Regions from separate parts of the Homo sapiens genome. Here all the other regions are linked to region 1. The links come from fine-mapping of genetic effects on gene expression. A gene starts in region 1. Each other region holds a variant in brackets. All regions are shown on one strand. Distances are from middle to middle.

Evidence for each region. PIP is the estimated chance that this variant, and not a neighbour inherited with it, causes the effect. A credible set is the group of variants that fine-mapping cannot tell apart.
Region 2: its variant is the best candidate, but not a certain one, in a credible set for the expression of PHYH in blood mononuclear cells (TOPMed, PIP 0.72).
Region 3: its variant is the best candidate, but not a certain one, in a credible set for the expression of PHYH in cerebellar hemisphere (GTEx, PIP 0.74).
Region 4: its variant is the best candidate, but not a certain one, in a credible set for the expression of PHYH in skeletal muscle (GTEx, PIP 0.87).

What each region holds. Positions count from the first base shown.
Region 1 is chr10:13,298,503-13,301,248 of GRCh38, reverse strand. PHYH (phytanoyl-CoA 2-hydroxylase) reads left to right here and starts at 1,185. Exons shown (of 9, transcript NM_006214.4): 1 at 1,185-1,281. The coding sequence starts at 1,207. LOC124902377 (a long non-coding RNA gene) reads right to left here and starts at 1,060. Exons shown (of 2, transcript XR_007062056.1): 1 at 843-1,060. RefSeq lists enhancers at 859-998, 1,575-2,195 and a silencer at 1,179-1,598.
Region 2 is chr10:13,116,741-13,119,240 of GRCh38, reverse strand. OPTN (optineurin) reads right to left here. Exons shown (of 15, transcript NM_001008212.2): 7 at 201-353. Among named protein-coding and RNA genes, the nearest start is that of OPTN, 18 kb to the right of the region's middle. RefSeq lists an enhancer at 2,483-2,500. The variant G/A (reference allele first, on the strand shown) is at 983.
Region 3 is chr10:13,277,392-13,280,137 of GRCh38, reverse strand. It overlaps PHYH (phytanoyl-CoA 2-hydroxylase), which reads left to right. Exons shown (of 9, transcript NM_006214.4): 9 at 1,784-2,339. The coding sequence ends at 1,837. Among named protein-coding and RNA genes, the nearest start is that of PHYH, 21 kb to the left of the region's middle. The variant A/G (reference allele first, on the strand shown) is at 1,583.
Region 4 is chr10:13,218,272-13,221,017 of GRCh38, reverse strand. No RefSeq gene overlaps it. Among named protein-coding and RNA genes, the nearest start is that of UCMA, 15 kb to the left of the region's middle. The variant ACTTCAGGGTTTTC/C (reference allele first, on the strand shown) is at 1,121.

The DNA of each region.
Region 1 (2,746 bases):
CCATCTCGCTCACTGCAAGGTCCGCCTCCTGGGTTTACACCGTTCTCCTGCCTCAGCCTCCTGAGTAGCTGGGACTACAGGCGCCCGCCACGACGCCCGGCTAATTTTTTTGTAGATCAGGTGTTCTCACTATGTTACCCAGGCTGCTTTCGATCTATAGCGATCCTGAGCTCAAGCGATCCTCCTGCCTCGGCCTCCCAAAGTGTTGGAGTTACGGGCGTGAGCCACCGCACCCGGCTAAAAACCTGTTTGTTTGTTTGTTTGTTTGTTTAGAGACGGAGTCTTGCCCTGTCACCCAGGCTGGAATGCAGTGGCGCCATCTCGCTGACTGCATCCTCCGCCTCCCGGTTGCAAGTGATTCTCTTGCCTCAGCCTCCCCAGTAGCTGGGATTACAGGCGTGCGCCACAACACTCAGCTAATTTTTGTATCTTTAGTAGAGACGGGTTTTCACCAAGTTGGCCAGGCTGGTCTCGAACTCCTGACCCCGTGATCCGCCTGCCTTGGCCTCCCAAAGTGCTGGGATTACAGGCGTGAGCCACCGCGCCCGGCAAACTTTTTGTTTAAATCGGAGATTTTATTCTTTCAGCTGTCAGTGGAAGGAGCAGTCACGTAGGGTTAAACAGATGGAAGCCATGACGTTAGGAGAGTGAGTGAGGTCCCAGCCCAGCCACTTGTCACTGTGTGACCTCGGCCTGGTCACTGGGCCCCCGAGCTTCGGTGCGGCAGGGAGGGTCCTGGTGATGGAACAGAAACAGGGTGCGGGGCAGGGGTAATGACTCACGCCTGTAGTCCCAGCACTTTGGGAGGTCGAGACGGGAGGCGGGGGGAGTTTGAGACCCACCTGGGCAACGTAGCGAGACCCCATCTCTACAAAAAATAAAAATTAGCCCAAGAGTTCAAGGCTGCAGTGAGCTATGATCGCGCACTGCACTCCAGCCTGGGCGACAGAGCAAGATCTTGTTTCTTTTTAAAAAGAAAGAAAATAAAGGACGGAAGGATCATGGTGTGGGGAGGACTTCAGCCCCGGGCGGTTGCCCGGCGCGCGGACTCTAGCGGACTAGGGCTCCCCAGCAGCCCGGCCCGCGAGCTGGCACCGCCCGGAATCCCGCTTACGTCCAGTCCGGGGCGGCGCCTGGAGGCGGAGCCGCCCGCTGGGCTAAATGGGGCAGAGGCCGGGAGGGGTGGGGGTTCCCCGCGCCGCAGCCATGGAGCAGCTTCGCGCCGCCGCCCGTCTGCAGATTGTTCTGGGCCACCTCGGCCGCCCCTCGGCCGGGGCTGTCGTATCCTTTGGGCTGCGCGGGGCTCGGGCTGGATCCGGCGCCGGCGCCGCCGCCTGAGTGGTGGCCCTGGTCCGGGTGGAGGCCTCGGGGTCGCACGCTTCGCAGCCCCAGCGCCTCCTCGCTCAGCGCCGCGTCCCCGCCTGGGTCGCGTCTCTTCCAGGAGCCGGGGAGCGGGGAAGAGGCTGCGTCCCCCGAGGACACGCGCGGCCGCCCTGGGGTCGGGGCAATTGCCGCGTTGCCCTGCCCTCCGGGATCCCTGGGGGCCTCTGCTCCTCTCTTTGTGGAGACGTCGTTTCACCGGCGGCGCGTGACCCCGGCAGCTGTCCAGAGACCCAGAGATGTCCAATCACAGGCGCACGGTGCACAGGCGCGCAGGGCTGCCTGGAACCGGCCCAGGCAGGCAGTGACCGGGACCTCTCCGGAGGGGAGAGGACGGTGCCCTCCCGGGCAGGAGCTGGCCAGGCAGGCGCTGCCCAGGGCGGCCTCCCTGCTGGACTACGGCATTGCCACTGAGTTATATAAAGACACTATTTGGGGAAGGACAGCGGGTGAGGACTGGCGCGGCGGCACACGCCTTGCCTGTTGTCTCGGCTCTTCTGGGGGCCAAGGCCAGGAGTCCAGGGTTACAGTGAGCCGTGATGGCCAGTGCGTTCCAAAAGAGAGAAACAGAGAGAAAGAAAGGATAACATGTTAATTGATGAGAGTGACATTCCGAAAGTAACCGATTAAGCTAAAGAAACAATGCAATTCTATGTCAACTCTCTGCAGTTACCGGATAGAAAGGAGATCTTTAAAAGGAATTTCTAGGGTTTTGCTTTTTTGGTTTTTTTTTTTTTTTGAAACAGGGCCTCACTCTGTCACCCAGGCTGGAGTGCAGTAGTGGTACGATCTCGGCTCACTCCTGGGCTCAAGAGATCCTTCCACCTCAGCCTCCTAAGTAGTTGGGACTACAGGGTTGCGCCACGATGCCAGGCGAATTTATGTTGTTGTTGTTATTGTTGTTATTATTATTATTATTATTATTATTATTATTATTATTATTATTTTTGAGACGGAGTCTTGCTCTGTGGTCAGGCTGGAGTGCAGTGCCGCACTCTGCAATGTCGGCCCACTGCAACCTCCGCCTCCCAGGTTCAAGCCATTCCCCTGCCTCAGCCTCCCAAGTGTAATTTGTATTATTATTATTAGTAGTAGTAGTAGTAGCAGTAGTAGTAGTAGTAGTAGTAGTAGTAGTAGTAGTAGTAGTAGTGGTGGTAGTTTTTTTTCTGAGATGGAGTCTCTCTCTGTTGCCCAGGCTGGAATGCAGTGGCCTGATCTCAGCTCACTGCAATCTCCACCTCCCAGGTTCAAGCAATTCTCCTGTCTTAGCCTCTCCAGTAGCTGGGATTACAAATGAACGCCACCACGCCTGGCTAATTTTTGTATTTTTAGTAGAGATGGGGTTTCACCATATTGGTCAGGCTGG
Region 2 (2,500 bases), 180 kb after region 1:
TGGAGGAGCAGACAGTGAGTGCTGTTTGGGGGAAAAAATGTTCTAAAATTATATTGTAGTAACAGTGGTTGCACAATCCTGGAATATTCTAAAAAACACTGAAATGTATACTTTAAATGGGTGAACTGTATGGTATCTTAATTATATCTCAGGAAAGCTGTTTTAAAAAAACACATATTTCAAGTTAACCTATTTCATACCTTTCTTTGGCCTCCTTGAGTGCAACTTCAAGTCTCTCCACCTTCTGATTCCCTTCCCTTAGGCACAGCAGGAGCTGGCTCACAGTTAACTCCTCATGTTCGAAGTAATTCTTGGCCCCATCTGCAGATCTGCTCCTATATTTAGACAATGCCCTGTTCAGTATAAAGGTTAAAAGGTTTTCATCAGAAAAATTCCAAAGACTAAGAAGAGAGTAACCCAATATAACTGGGACCAGCTTAAAGGAACTGCTTTCCAGAACATTCTCCAACTAATTCTCAACTAGTGAACAAGCACAGCTGGTCCTGGGACCCCCAGTGCCAAGCTCCTCCATGCTTCCTAGGGAAGGTGTGGAGACTCAGTGAGGCTCTGGAGAGGCCAGCTTACAATGCACACACCCACGTCCTCCAAACAGTCACTGTGTACCTCACACCACACCACAAAACTCACGGAACAGTTCAGCAGAGGCAGCCGTGGCTGAAGGTGCCAAGCTTTCCAGAGATCTAGTCTCAAAGGGGACTGCAGTCAGACAAAAGATAAAGGCACATTGTACAGACCACTGGCCTTTCTCCAAGTTAACAGAGACCATCACAGCTTAAGTCAAGGGGAGAAAACCTTTTTCACTTGTGGTTTCAAATAATGAGAGCAGAGAAATGGAGGCTCTGTTGATATGTCAAGTATTTTTCTCGATTTCAAAATCTGACTAAATCAAGAGACATATCAGTGACAAACAGAATCATGATCACTGTTACAAAACATGAGGGATGACTATGATGATGCTAAC[G/A]GCAGCTACTCTTTCAGTCACCGACTCAGGTTCGCATAGCTAATAAACAGCCAGGATTAAATCCCGGTTTCCAGGACTCTGAAGCTTCAACTCCAAACCTGGAAATCAATCTCAAACTAATTACGATACTCACAAATGGTACAGAGCTGTTATTTTAAAAATAGCCATGTGGCTTAAAAGAGGAAGCGGTCTTTGCATCTGGATATGAATGATGAGGAAGTGGCTTTGATATTTCAACCAGGGCTTTTTTATTTCCCACTACTTCCAGGAACGTCTTTAAATATGACAAAAGCAATTTGGGGGAAACGTGAAGAATTGTTAACCAAAAAAGGGAATTACTTTCGTTTATGCCAATTACTGTGTTTGACGAAAGAATATTATCTAATACTTACTTTCTTCCTTATACAAGGGCTTAGAAACATAACGGAAGACAATTTTTTTCACGTTTTGTAAGTCATTCTATATGCACATTCATCAAGTTATACAAAGAAGGTTTTACAAATCTATGAGATAGCTGGGCGCAGTGGCTCACGCCTGTAATCCCAGCGCTTTGGGAGGCTGAGACCAGAGGATCACCTGAGGTCAGGAGTTCGAGACCAGCCTGGTCAACACAGTGAAACCCTGTCTCTATTAAAAACACAAAAAGTTAGCTGGGCGTGGTGGCGGCCACCTGTATTCCCAGCTACTCGGAAGGCTGAGGCAGGAGAACTGCTTGTACCCGGGAGGCAGACGTTGCAGTGAGCTGAGATTGCGCCACTTCACTCCAGCCTCAGTGGCAGAGTGAAACTCCATCTCAAAAAAAAAAAAAAAAAAAAAAAACTCCATCTCAAAAAAAAAAAAAAGATGGATCTCTTATCCGTCTGTGAGATAAGAGATCCTGGCCGGGCGCGGTGGCTCATGCCTGTAATCCCAGCGCTTTGGGAGGCCAAGGCGGGCAGATCACGAGGTCAGGAGATCGAGACCATCCTGGCTAACACGGTGAAACCCCATCTCTACTAAAAATACAAAAAATTAGCCGGGCATGGTGGTGGGCGCCTGTGGTTCCAGCTACTCGGGAGGCTAAGGCAGGAGAATGGCGTGAACCCGGGAGGCGGAGCTTGCAGTGAGCCGAGATCACGCCACTGCACTCCAGCCTGGGCAACAGAACAAGATTCCGTCTCAAAAAAAAAAAAAAAAAAGAGATCCTTAGAGTTCTTTTCAGACAATCGTCTCTTGAATAGATGATTACAGGAGTAAGCAGCTTGCAGAAGGCGAGCTAGCAGTCTCCTTGGTGAGCACTGCTTTGCGAGAGTCAAGAGGTTCAGGCGCTCAGTTCTAGGTCTGCCTCCCTCCCCAAGGCCCTGCCACTATTTAAGATGTCTGTTTCCTCACATCTACATAGGACAGGTACACTTGAGACTCCACAGATAAGAAATCTGGGCACTTTCAGGCAACACCCACAATGACTGAGAGTGCTATCAGTCATTGTTACAAAAGATGTTCCAGTATTGGCCATGCCAGCTTATAACTGGGAAGTAG
Region 3 (2,746 bases), 21 kb after region 1:
AATTAGCTGGGTCTGGTGGCACATGCCTGTAGTCCCAGCTACTCGGGAGGCTGAGGCAGGAGAATGGTGTGAACCCAGGAGGCGGAGCTTGCAGTGAGCCGAGATCATGCCACTGCACTCCAGCCTGGGCGACAGAGCGAGACTCTGTCTCAACAACAACAAAAGAAGGAATCTTGCTTCTCCCTTTAGAACCTGGAAATGTGTCGCATCTCTGAAAATGCTCTGATTTTGCATTTGCAGGTCCTAGAAATTCTTGTCCTTCCTCACTTTTTGTTCAGTACCTAAAATGCCTATACATTTTGTCAACTGGAGCTTTGAGCTAACATCCTAAATTTTAAGGGAGAACAAATATATGTACATTATGTTTGAGGTTTGTCAAGGTTGTGCTAAATGAATACCTCCCACATTTAGTTTAATTACTCTGTAAGTTATATTTAGAATAACAATATTAACCTCTGCTACATAGTTCTCTGTAAAGTACAAAAGCACATTCATATTCATTTTCTTATTTTCTTCACCAAAACCCGGTGGGGCAGTATAAACTCCATGCTGTCAATGACAAGAAAACAAATCCCAGAGGCTGATCTAAGCTAGCTAAGCGACAAAGCTTGATTTTAGAGTCAGGTCAAATCTGAAAATTATTCTTTCCACCATACCTTGCTGTTTGCTCAAAAATAAACAAGAACCAAGAAATAAGAACATCTAAATTATTTTATTAAGGGCAGAGGGGGAAGAAACCCACCAAACAAAGCAGTAATCCTTGATACCATGTTCACTATTATCATCTCATCAAGAGTAGAACACTCAAAAAGGCTCAGACAAGTAACATAAGAGTCATCAGGCCAGGTGCAGTGGCTCACTCCTGTAATCCCAGCACTTTGGGTGTTTGAGGCGGGTGGATCACCTGAGGTCAGGAGTTTGAGACCAGCCTTACCAACATGGTGAAACCCCGTCTCTACTAAAAATATAAAATTAGCCGGGTGTGGTGGCACATGCCTCTAATCCTAGCTACTTGGGAGGCTGAGGCAGGAGAATCATTTGAACCCAGGAGGCAGAGGTTGCAATGAGCCAAGATGGTACCATTGCACTCCAGCCTGGGCAACAAGAGCAAAATTCCGTCTCAAAAAAAAAAATTATGCAGAAAAATGGCAGTGAACTGTTTGTTCTGTAACCCGACATGACATTGACCCAGTTATGTTAGCTGGCACCAACAAATATCCTGAATAAAACAGAACTGACAGCAGCTGGGGGACCCACTGACTTAATTTAGTTAACACTGTTTTAGAAGTCGGTTAAGTAGACCAGGAGTGGTGGCTCATACCTGTAATCCCAGCACTTGGGAGGCTTTGCAAGGCCAAGGCGGACAGATCACTTGAGGCCAGGAGTTTGAGATCAGTCTGGCCAGTGTAGCGAAACCCTGTCTCTACTGAAAATACAAAAAGTTAGCTGGGCGTGGTGGTGCACACCTGTAATCCCAGCTACTCGGGAGGCTGAGGCAGGAGAGTCGCTTGAACCCGGGAGGCAGAGGTTGCAGTGAGCCGCTGCACTCCAGCCTGGGCAATGGGGTGAGACTGTGTCCCCA[A/G]AAAATTTTTAAAAAAGAGTTGAGTAAGTAGTTTAAGTTGAGTTGTTTTGTTTACTAATGAATATAACTTACAGGGATTATTTTCCCTATGTAACCTTTCATAGAAGCTAGAAATCAATTTTGTGTTATGGTGAAATTGAAGGTTAATGGAGGGCAGATTGAAGTGTTCCATAAACCCACTCTGTTTGATATTATTTCCAGGATATTTGGATGTTTCGAGCTCGACTTGTGAAAGGAGAAAGAACCAATCTTTGAAATAGCCATCTGCTATAACTCTTTCAACAGAAAACCAAAACCAAACGAAATGTCTAAGGAAAATGTTTTCTTAATGAGATGATGTAACCTTTTCTATCACTTGTTAAAAGCAGAAAACATGTATCAGGTACTTAATTGCATAGAGTTAGTTTTGCAGCACAATGGTGTTGCTTTAATGGAAAAAAAAAACAGTAAAAGTGAAATATTACTGTTTTAAGGAAAACTAATTTAGGGTGGCAGCCAATAAAGGTGGTTGGTGTCTAATTTAAGTGTTAAATCAATTTCTTTCATTCAGTTAGCTCTTTACCCAAGAAGAAGTGAATGATTTGGAGCTTAGGGTATGTTTTGTATCCCCTTTCTGATAAACCCATTCCCTACCAATTTTATGTCATAAGAGATTTTTTTCCCCCAAATCTAGAACAATGTATAATACATTCACATCTAGTCAAGGGCATAGGAACGGTGTCATGGAGTCCAAATAAAGTGGATATTCCTGCTCGGACAAGGGCTTTCTCCTGTGATTTCTTCAACCCAACCATTCCCTTAACAAGAAGACTTGTTCTTTCCAGTCCTTTCCTCTGTTCCTGAAGAATGAAGACAAGGGCCAGGTGCAGTGGCTCACGCCTGTAATCCTAGCACTTTGGGAGGCCGAGGTGGGTGGATCACCTGAGGTCAGGAGTTCAAGACCAGCCTGGCCAACATGGCAAAACCCCATCTCTCCAAAAATACAAAAAAAAAAAAAAAAAATAGCCGAGCGTGGTGGCATGCACCTGTAATCCCAGCTACTCAGGAGGCTGAGGCAGAAGAATTACTTGAACCTGGGAGGCAGAGGTTGCAGTGAGCTGAGATCACACCACTGCACTCCAGCTTGGGTGACAGAGCAAGACCCTGTCTCAAAAAAAAAAAAAA
Region 4 (2,746 bases), 80 kb after region 1:
TCAGACGGCAAATCTCACTTCTAGCTCCATTAAATTTAACCAAGTCAGACTTAACCAGGTTCCTAGTGCATACCCTAGCTATGTGATCCATGTACTTCTACCACCTACCCCAATGCCTTCGGGCCTGGCTAAACAGAAAGGCTGTTTAGGAACCCGCAGCTCTCCACAAACCTCCTTGAAAGTGACACACAGCTTTTAGTAAGCAATGTTCTAGCAGTGGAAGAGACTGGTATAACAGAAAAACTTTAAGGCCAGGTGTGGTGGCTCATACCTGTAATCCCAGTGCTTTGGGAAGCTGAGGCAGGAGGATTGTTTGAGGCCAGGAGTTTGAGGGTGCAGTGAGCTATGATCAGGCCACTACATTCCCGTCTGTCAGACAGAGTGAGACCCTATCTAAAAAAAAAAAAAAAAAAAGAAAAAGAAAAAATGAAATTTGAGAACAACATGTGTCTATCTAGATCAGTTACCGAGTGGATGGTGAGCCTGCCAACTGGGGTTGGTAGTTGGGCAGCAGTGAAAGCTTAACCACTGCTAGCTCAGATCCTGAGTCAGGGGTGCAGGCTGTTCAGCCAGCGATACCAGGGAGGTTGCACTGTATTTGCACATAACTGACCTTCTGGTTGGATGCCAAGACAGGCCCTGAGGTAGGTAGCCTCTGTTTACAAGGTTTTTGTTTTTGTTTTTTTAATTAATGACTAAAAAAAATACTCAGTGTGCAACAGAAAAAAAGGCAAAGTGTTGCTCTGTCACTTCCATGGGGAAACAAGAGAAGCCCCAATCTGGTTCATATTGGTCAGGATAACACACCCCAGTGCTTTCTGGCAAGAGGGCAGTTCCCCTTTGCTGCATGGTGGTGATCAGGAGGATGTCAACCAATAACTTGACTCACAGCCACACCATGCACCACCTGCCGGTCGTGTGTCCACAGGAAGGAATGCAGGGCTTTTCAGATGTCAAAAACCAAGAATGGCTTGCTTTAAAAAAGCAAAACAGCCTGTTCTTGCCTCTTCCCTGCTCATGCTTAGCACGGTGGCTCTAGATACAGAACTCTGGCAGAAAGGAGCCAAATAAGAATTCCATTACCTTGTTCTACCCCCATCCTTAACAAGGGCTCCATTAT[ACTTCAGGGTTTTC/C]AAATTCGGTCCAGAATTCCTTCACCAAATGCCAGCTGCGGTCATTTCCTTGGGCGGGAGAAGCATAACAGAGGTAACGCGATCTGGGATCTGGACAGCCACAGTTCACATGAAATTAGAACAGGGCGGTTTGTATTTTGGAGACTGGCCTTGTCAAAAGTGTGGCCTTTGGGGCTTCTTTTGCTTGGGTTTTTCTGTTCTTTCATTACTTTCCCGTAGTTCTTAGTGGGTTCTAGCTAAGTGGTTGAAAACAAATTTGTCAAAGGATATATCTGTCATTCATTTTTATTCACCAATTTTGCATATGTTGGAATTTCATTTTCCCAGTGCAGGTTAAAGGTACAAGGAAAAAACAATGTTTTTGTGTGTTCCAGGAGAGATTTTACAATTTATTATCGTGTGCCTTTGTTTATTTAGATTTTTTAGAAGGAGGTGGTAAGTTTTGTGAGCCACAGAATGATTAAAAAAATTTTTTTAACTTATGTGGTTTTTATCAGTTACATTGAGTTGGGTTATTTTATTTCTAATTCATTTGCTGCCAATTATGTTCTAATTCTTTGGGAAGTTTTTCATAATTTAAAAGTTTTTCATAATTTAAAAGGCTGGGCGTGGTGAGCCACACCTGTAATCCCAGCACTTTCAGAGGCCGAGGTGGGAGCATCGCTTGAGCCCAGGAGTTTGAGACTGACCTGGGCAACATAGTGAGATTCCATCTCTACAAAAAAAATTAAAAATTAGTTGGGCATGGTGACACATGCCTGTAGTTCCAGCTACTCGGGAGACTGAGGTGGGAGGATTGCTTGAGCCCAGGAGGTTGAGGGTATAGTGAACTATGTGACACCACTGCACTCCAGACTGGGCAAGAGAGTAAGACCCTGTCTCTAAAAAAAAGTTGTCTCTAGCCTTGAAGGGATTTCTCTGAAAACAAATTGGTTAAATATAAATGTTCTAGTCTACAATTGAGAACTCTGATATACTCTGTGATCTTATAATGTTTAAAATTATAAATGTTTAAAAATGTTTTATTCACTTTCCACATTATCTTGGCTTTTTAAAATTAAAAATAGTCTAACAGGTACACGAGACTCCATCTCAAAAAAAAAATAGTCTAACAGGTAATACACACCCATGGTTTAACATTTTTTTTTTTTTTTTTATCTTTTCTTTTTTTTTTTTTTTTCTTTTTTTATTATTATTATTATACTTTAAGTTTTAGGGTACATGTGCACATTGTGCAGGTTAGTTACATATGTATACATGTGCCATGCTGGTGCGCTGCACCCACTAATGTGTCATCTAGCATTAGGTATATCTCCCAATGCTATCCCTCCCCCCTCCCCCGACCCCACCACAGTCCCCAGAGTGTGATATTCCCCTTCCTGTGTCCATGTGATCTCATTGTTCAATTCCCACCTATGAGTGAGAATATGCGGTGTTTGGTTTTTTGTTCTTGCGATAGTTTACTGAGAATGATGGTTTCCAATTTCATCCATGTCCCTACAAAGGACATGAACTCATCATTTTTTATGGCTGCATAGTATTCCATGGTGTATATGTGCCACATTTTCTTAATCCAGTCTATCATTGTTGGACATTTGGGTTGGTTCCAAGTC